Regions from separate parts of the Homo sapiens genome. Here region 1 is linked to region 2. Evidence: fine-mapped expression QTL. A gene starts in region 2. The other region holds a variant in brackets. All regions are shown on one strand. Distances are from middle to middle. Region 1 overlaps VPS36 (vacuolar protein sorting 36 homolog). Region 2 holds the start of THSD1 (thrombospondin type 1 domain containing 1).

Region 1 (4,000 bases), 27 kb after region 2:
ATCCCAGCTACTCGGGAGGCTAAGGCAGGAGAATCGCTTGAATCCGGGAAGCAGAGGTTGCAGTGAGCCAAAATAGCGGCACTGCACTCCAGCCTAAGCGACAGAGTAAGACTCTGTCTCAAAAAAAAAAAAAAAAAAAAGAAAGAAAGAAACCAGAGTTTCTCAGATAAATGGTTGATTCCGGATCTGAGGCAGGAAATGTACAAGATGGTCCTGGAGCTTTTGCAACACCAGATAGTGAAGAAGCTAGCAAAGTTCACCTAGTCACAACAAAAGCACTTAGAGGGCCAACTTGAAGCAGCTCCCACTGGCCAAAGATGGGACAATTTGAGCTTCAAATAGGATAATAATTATAACTGATTGAAATCCATCAAATATGCTAAACTCCATGAATTCATAATGACATGTTAAAAAAAACCTAATTAGTTGGCTGGGCGCGGTGGCACATGCCTGTAATCCCATCACTTTGAGAGGCCGCGGCGGCGGATCACGAGGTCAGAAGATTAAGACCATCCTGTCTAACATGGTGAAACCCCGTCTCTACTAAAAATACAAAAAATTAGCCAGGTTTGGTGGCGGGCGCCTATAGGCCCAGCTACTCGGGAGGCTGAGGCAGGAGAATGGCGTGAACCTGGGAGGCAGAGCTTGCAGTGAGCCAGGATCGAGCCACTGCACTCCAGCCTGGGCGACAGAGCAAGACTCTGTCTCAAAAAACAAAACAAAACAAAACAAAAAAACAAACAAACCTAATTAGTCATCGTCAAAAGATAATAAGGAAACAATTTATTACCCTGATGATAAAGGAAAATGCAATTATCCTGCCTTTCCTATATGAACTGGACAACCAAATAGTAGATAAGGGAAACATTTCTTTAAAAAGTATTCCAACTAATAAATGAAAAATAAACACAGAATTATCACTATTTACCACCACCAATGAACTAATAGATCTAGGCACTGAATATTAACAGCTGCTAACATGACAGAGATAAGATGTGCCTCTGACGAAAGAACACAGCATCACCTCTAGTTTTGCCAAACGGACAGAACATGAGTGTGACAGAGATTCTGGATCCAGCTGCCAATTTGGGGAAAATACAGGGTTGAGGAAAATATACAACTTCACCACAGATACATATCCAGAAAAACCTACTATGGGCACTTAATAGGTCAAATGCCCTTGGTTCCCCAACAGTAATCTATATTTTCAATTAGTGAGCCCAAAATAAGTATTTAAATAACTATTTGTAGTTTTAGACTTTACTTGATTGACATAAATCTTTGAAATTCTCTGAAAAGCAACCATCAACAGAATTTTACTTATGAATTACTATAAAAACCAAAGATTTACTTTAAAGCATCATTTCATAAAAAACCAAGACCATTTTTATATAAACATGGAAAAACCAGTGATATGTTTAGCTGTATTAACTAATTACAGAATCTAATGCATAACTGGTCTTTTTAGCTAGAGTTCTTTCCCCTTCTCTTGAATTTCCTCATATATCATGAAGCCTCAGAAACACTGGAATGTACATGCTCAGGGTTGTCCCCCAGTAGAAGTGATGGGCTGCTTTGAGCCGTTCTTACTGATGTCTGGTCTGATCCCTGGGTGGTCATCAACATAAAATGGTGTGGTATCTGGCCACAGACTGGCCACAGAATAGCATTTTTCTCTCAACTAAGTTACTTCAACTTCCAAAATAATTATACAGAGAACCCTGAACTCATTAGGAGTATCCGCCAATCAATTTCATCTAGACTGTAAAATCTACACACAACATTTTATGATGTTTTCTAACAGCAAACAAATTTGCATTTCTTTTTTATTCCTTTTAGAAAAAGGTTTTGGTTAGATTTTGCCAGCCCGAGGTAGACCTGTTAAAGAGAATAGGAGACTATGTAGCTTCAGGCAAATGAAATATATTCTAAATTACAGAAGGGAATTAGGCACAGCTGTATCTAAAAGAATAGACACAAATGGCTGGAATAGATGGAGAGCCAGAATTTAACAGTTACCTCAGAAATGTTTTTGTCAGTTTCTTTTCTTTTTTCTTCCAGTTTCCTTTCAATACCTACAATTCCTACAGCCCTTATTCTTCCTGGCTGAAAAAAAAAAGA[G/A]GTAGAAAATAAAACATACAAAATAGGAAGGAAACAAAATCTTTTGTAACCAACCACATTGTGTTTTCAATGGCGGGAAAGGACCTACAAAGAACCAAAGAAAAACAGCATACACGGACATTTAGCTTCCCTTCAAAACATGTGTTTGTTTCTTGCTGTACATAATGATCTTAAAATCATTCAGGAAAAACCAAATATACAATAAATGGCATATTTTACTCTGCATTTTAGAGATAAGTTAAATTTCCTATCATTTTCCTTCTTTGGCAAGCTATTACGTATCAGATACTTAATAGGGTCTCAAATGTACAAAAAAAATCACAGTTTAAATTTTGGTTCTTAATTAAGTTATTATTCAAGCTACTTTCATACATTTGAGTACCTGTCTAGTGTTGGTGATTAATTTAGACAGGCCTGGAAAACATTACCCAGCTGTACTGTCTATTCTCTCAAATGTCACACTGATTATGAAGAACAGAATGCAGTGAGTGAACCCTACCTTCTATCACCCTAAGAATTACGCTGGTAAGCAGTCATTTATGTTTACTAAGCGTCTGCTGTATAGACAGCACTAAATTAGGTGCTGTGAAAATAATTTTTTTTTTCTTTTTTTGAGACGGAGTCTTGCTCTGTCGCCCAGGCTGAAGTGCAATGGTGCAATCTTGGCTCACAGCAACCTCCGCCTCCTGGGTTCAGGTGACTCTCCTGCCTCAGCCTTCTGAGCAGCTGGGATTACAGGCGTGCACCAACCTGCCTGGCTAATTTTTGTATTTTTAGTAGAGACAGGGTTTCACAATGTTGGCCAGGCTGGTCTTGAACTCCTGACCTCATGATCCACCCCGCCTTGGCCTCCCAAAGTAGTGGGATTACAGGCGTGAGCCACCGCGCCCTACCGAAAATAAATTCTTTATAAGAATACCATTGCAGTATTTTGTTTTGGGCAAGTTCTACAATCACAGAGTCTTTTTCTTAATGAAGATGTAAGTACAGAGTTGAAAATACTGGATTAGCAAATAGTTTTAAAAATACCTGGGGTCCTCTATTTGTTTGTAATGACTGGGAAACTGGCATATTCTCCCATCTTCTTTGTGTCATTTCCTCTGATAAACGCCTGTAAAACTGATACGCAAATAAATACACTTTAAATGACTCAGTCAGATTGTAACATCCTTGTATAAATCATTACTTAACATTTCTTTCTTTTTTTCTTTTTTTTTTTTTTTTTGAGGTGGAGTTTTGTTCTTGTTGCCCAGGCTGGAGTGCAATGGCGTGATCTAGGCTCACCACAACTTCCGCCTCCCCGATTCAAGTGATTCTCCTGCCTCAGCCTCCCAAGTAGCTGGGATTACAGGCATGTGCCACCACACCCAGCTAATTTTGTATTTTTAGTAGAGATGGGGTTTCTCCATATTGGTCAGGCTGGTCTTGAACTCTCGACCTCAGGTGATCTGCCCGCCTCAGCCTCCCAAAGTGCTGGGATTATAGGTGTGAGCCACCGCGCCCGGCCACTTAACATTTCTTCAGTATAAAAGTCTGTTCAGTCATTTGCAGCAAGCCCAGAATTCTCAGAGACATCAAAGAAAATCAAAGGAAGTTCTTTTCTTGGATCAGCTTCAGAAAGCACAAGGGAAAAAAAAAAAGAGAAGGAACTGACCTTCTATATAAAGTGGGCTATTCTCAACAAAGAGATGAGTGACAATGAAATCAATAGACTTACTTTAAACAATCCTGTGTATGTGGATTGTTTTCGATCTATAATGAAACAAACACAGTGCCAGGAAAAATATACAACCATTCTCCATGAAGGAAGCAGAGAATCATTTGTCTAGTTAAAATATAAAACCAAAAAGTAGGACCAAAACATACCTATGCTCACAAA
Region 2 (4,531 bases):
TCCCCCCCATTATTCACATTTTTTTTTTTTTTTTTTTTTTTTTTTTAGACAGAGTCTTGCTCTGTCACCTAGCCTGGAGTGCAGTGGCATGATCTTGGCTCACTGCAACCTCCACCTCCCAGGTTCAAGTGATTGTCCCACCTCAGGCTTCTGAGTAGCGGGGATTATAGGTGTGCACCACCACGCTTGGCTAATTTTTGTATTTTTAGTAGAAACGGTGTTTCACCACTTTGGCCAGGCTGGTCTCAGATGTCTGGCCTCGTGATCTGCCCACCATGGCCTCCCAAAGTGCTGGGATTACAGGCGTGAGCCACCACACCCAGCCCACAGTTAATCATTTTAATAAGCAAGTATATTATATTCCAAATACATGTTACATCTTTTCAGATAAGAGCACAAATTAGTGGAATTAAGAAGACTGATTGAAATAAGCCAGAATTCAATGGAAGGGAAACTGGTGTGTCTTATTAGCTTTCTTTCAGCAAGAGCTGCTGAACAAAGGAAATACTGTACTTCCTGAAAGGGAAACAGAGATTTGAAGTGTAACTATGCAGATTAGGGCTCCTTCCTCTTCCCCGCCACCCCCACCCAAAAAAAAGAAAAGAAAGGAAAGAAGAAGAAAATTGTTTTGGGTGGAATTAGCCACAGACTTGACCCAATTCTTTCCTCGAACATGGACTGGGAAACCTGGGCAAAGTCAGCCAGTAAGATCCTTGCAGAACACATCACATCACTTGGGCAAGTGTGAGCACTTAAGACAATTACAATGCTTCTTTTAAGTCACTGAGACCTGGTAACCAAACTAAGAAGAAGCAAGCTCCCAAAAGTTGAACTGGCTTCTCTCAGATTTGTTTGCTTCCACGACAATAACATTTTTATTTTTGAAGCCCCAAATCATTACTGATTTAGTGATTATAACACATTTTCTTTCTTATGAAAATGATCGGTAAAACATAGAATGGTGAGACAATCTATATTTAGAGCTGAATGGAAAAAGACTTATAAAACAGACCAGCCTACTTGTCAATCATAATATGGAATATGATCATAACATTAGTCATAATATGTCTCTTTAATTTCTTTCTACCTTGCTTATTTTCTTTCAACATGTTGTTCTCAATACCTCGACTGACTTCTTACAATGTTTGCATTGAGAATTGTTCTAAGAAATTAAGAACTTAGATATATTTTATACACATTTGAAAATACTTCTACCTAGCATTCTTGTATGTAAACTTTAGAGACAAATTCTAAATGCATCAGCTGAGAAGGTGGGGAAAAGTTGTGAATATTCTCAATGGCTAACAGCATCACCCAACCTGAGACCCCATGTTTTTGCTGAAACCAGCTAGGACAAACGCTTCTAAATCTCCCTTCATAGCTGCAGAAAAAGTAAATGAATTACACTAATGTCCATGGGACCAATGATTCGTGAAAGAATAAAATGGAAAACGAAGCAGTTATTTTGTCCCTTCTGACCAACATGCACATGCTTGTGTGTATATATACCAATAGTATTTATTGGGAGGAAATCTCTAGTTCTAAAGCAGCTCGTGTAAACAGGCTTCATTTATCTGTTCATTCGAGTTTGCTCTGCCCTGGTCCCACAGGTTGGGTGCAGCGTTCCTGGGACGCCCTGGCTCGCCCCATCTACTCAGCTTCCCAAATGCCCGCAAGCCCAGTTCACGCCTGGAAGTCTACCCCTCGCGTCGTCAGCTTAAAGCCCTCCTTAATGAGGACCGTCTTTAATTTAATTTAATCCTTGTATTTCATACTTTTTGTATATCAGAAAGGATTTCTTTTTGGAAAGAAACAGTAGCTCAAGACGCGATTTTTCAAGGTTCTGTGGCCAGTCTCAGTCACTCGGCAACATCTGAGCCAAGGCAGAGCCAGGTTCACTTAAATTCGGGACTCCGAAGTGTGGAGACCAATACCCCTTAAAAGCGTCCCCTGGGGCCGAGGCGGGTGTGGGGAGGGGCCGCCACCGTCCACCTGCGCCTTCAGGCTGCGGTGAGGTGGCAGAGTCCGGAGGCATTTCCCGACCCCAGAGGAGCCTCCAAGAGTCTCGCGGCACGGGCGCGAACACCAGGATGCGGAGGGCGCTTCTTACCTTTCGAGACTGACGGGCAGCAACCCCAGGCCGTCCGGGCGCGTGGCGAGGCGGACGGGAAGGCTCAGGGGCGGCGAGGTAGAGCGCCAAGCATCCCGCGTCCCAGACTGCACGCCCTGACCCCGCGGCGTTCGGCTCCCACAGCCCCGCGGGGCCCGCCCCCGACGGCGTGGGGAGGGCGGGCGCCGGGAGGGCGGGGGGCACACGGGACCGGGCGTGGTCGGTTCCCGCCCCTTCTGGGCAGCGCATCCTTTCCTGCCGGTCCCCAGCTCGCCAGCTGCTGGACAGGAAACAGGCAGGAAACGCGCGGCCAGCCAAGGTCCTGCGGGAGGGGGTGCGGCCCCGGCAGACGCAGGTCCCCTCAACACACACCCGCATCCACAGCACACAGCCGGACCAGGGGTTTAACGAAGGACGAGCGAGCAATCTCCTGACACTTCACATTCAATCACTTCTACTCTAGTGTCATTTTCTTCAGGGAGACCACAAAAATAAGTCCTTGAAGCGGCACAGCATGTGGGCTGTAAACTTGCTTTCCCAAATGTCACTGAAGAGTTTCAAAAGAACATAGTTCAGGTAAAGTGCATCTCCATTTTCTTTCCCTGGGGTCAGAATTGGTATTAAAAATAACTAAACATTTTAAAAACTCTACTCTGCAAGTGTTAAAGTTCTTTTTATAGGAATGTGAATTAGTTCAGCCACTGTGGAAAGCAGTTTGGAGATTTCTCAACTAAAAACAGAAAGATCATTCGACCCAGCAATCCCATTACTGGGTGTATGCCCAAAGGAAAATAAATCATTCTGCCAAAAAGACACCCGCACTATGTTTATCACAGTACTATTTACAATAGCAAAGACATGGAATCAACCTAGGTGCCCATCAACAGTAGACTGGGTAAAGAAAATGTGGTACATACACACCACGAAATACTAAACAGCCATAAAAAAAGAACAAAATCACGTCCTCTGTAGCAACATGGATGCAGTTGGAGGACATTATCCTAAGTGAATTAACATAGGAACAGAAAACCAAACACCGAATGTTCTCACTTATAAGTGGGAGCTTAAACAACGGGTACTCATGGACATAAAGATGGCAACAACAAACACTGGAGACTCCAAGTCAAGGGAGGGAGAGAAAGGGGCAAGGGCTGAAAAACATCCTATTGGGTACTGTGTCCGGAATTGGTGGGTTCTTGGTCTTTCTGACTTCAAGAATAAAGCTGCGGACCCTCGCGGTGAGTGTTACAGTTCTTAAAGGCGGCCTGTCCGGAGTTTGTTCCTTCTGATGTTCGGATGTGTTCAGAGTTTCTTCCTTCTGGTGGGTTCGTGGTCTCGCTGGTTCAGGAGTGAAGCTGCGGACCTTCGCCATGAGTGTTACAGCTTTTAAGGCGGCGCGTCTGGAGTTGTTCGTTCCTCCCAGTGTGTCCGTAGTCTCGCTGGCTTCAGAAGTGAAGCTGCAGACCTTCGCAGTGAGTGTTACAGCTCATAAAGGCAGTGTGGACCCAAAGAGTGAGCAGCAGCAAGATTTATTGCAAAGAGCCAAGGAACAAAGCTCCCACGCTTTGCAAGGGAACCCCAGCGGGTTGCCACTGCCGGCGCGTGCAGCCTGCTTTTATTCTCTTATCTGGCCCCACCCACATCCTGCTGATTGGTTCATTTTACAGAGAGCGGAGTGGTCTGTTTTGACAGGGCGCTGATTGGTGCATTTACAATCCCTGAGCTAGACACAAAGGTTCTCCACGTCCCCACTACATTAGCTAGATACAGAGTGTCCACACAAAGGTTCTCCAAGTCCCCACAAGAGTAGCTAGATACAGTGTCCATTGGTGCATTCACAAACCCTGAGCTAGACACAGGGTGCTGATTGGTGTGTTTACAAACCTTGAGCCAGATAGAGTGCCGACTGGTGTATTTACAATCCCTTAGCTAGCCATAAAGGTTCTCCAAGTGCCCACCAGTGAGGAGCCTAGCTGGCTTCACCCAGTGGATCCCGCACCGGGGCTGCAAGTGGAGCTGCCTGCCAGTCCCGCGCCCTGTGCCCGCACTCCTCAGCCCTTGGGTGGTCGATGGGACTGGGCGCTGTGGAGCAGGGGGTGGTGCTCGTCAGGGAGCTCGGGCCTCACAGGAGCCCATGGAAGGTGGGGGAGGCTCAGGCATGGCGGGCTGCAGGTCCCGAGCCCTGCCCTGCTCAGGGAGGCAGCTAAGGCCCTGCGAGAAATTGAGCGCAGCGCCGGTGGGCCGGCACTGCTGGGGGACCCAGCACACCTTCTGCAGCTGCTGGCCCAGGTGCTAAGCCCCTCATTGCCCGGGGCCGGCAGGGCCCACCGGCCGCTCCGAGTGCGGGCCCGCCGAGCCCACACCCACCCGGAACTCGTGCTGGCCCGCAAGCACCGTGCGCAGCCCCGGTTCCCGCCAGCG

Evidence for each region. PIP is the estimated chance that this variant, and not a neighbour inherited with it, causes the effect.
Region 1: its variant is the best candidate, but not a certain one, in a credible set for the expression of THSD1 in whole blood (TOPMed, PIP 0.51).

What each region holds. Positions count from the first base shown.
Region 1 is chr13:52,431,643-52,435,642 of GRCh38, forward strand. It overlaps VPS36 (vacuolar protein sorting 36 homolog), which reads right to left. Exons shown (of 14, transcript NM_016075.4): 5 at 3,151-3,240; 6 at 2,020-2,106. Among named protein-coding and RNA genes, the nearest start is that of VPS36, 17 kb to the right of the region's middle. The variant G/A (reference allele first, on the strand shown) is at 2,122.
Region 2 is chr13:52,403,921-52,408,451 of GRCh38, forward strand. THSD1 (thrombospondin type 1 domain containing 1) reads right to left here and starts at 2,252. Exons shown (of 5, transcript NM_018676.4): 1 at 2,111-2,252. RefSeq lists a silencer at 2,182-2,341.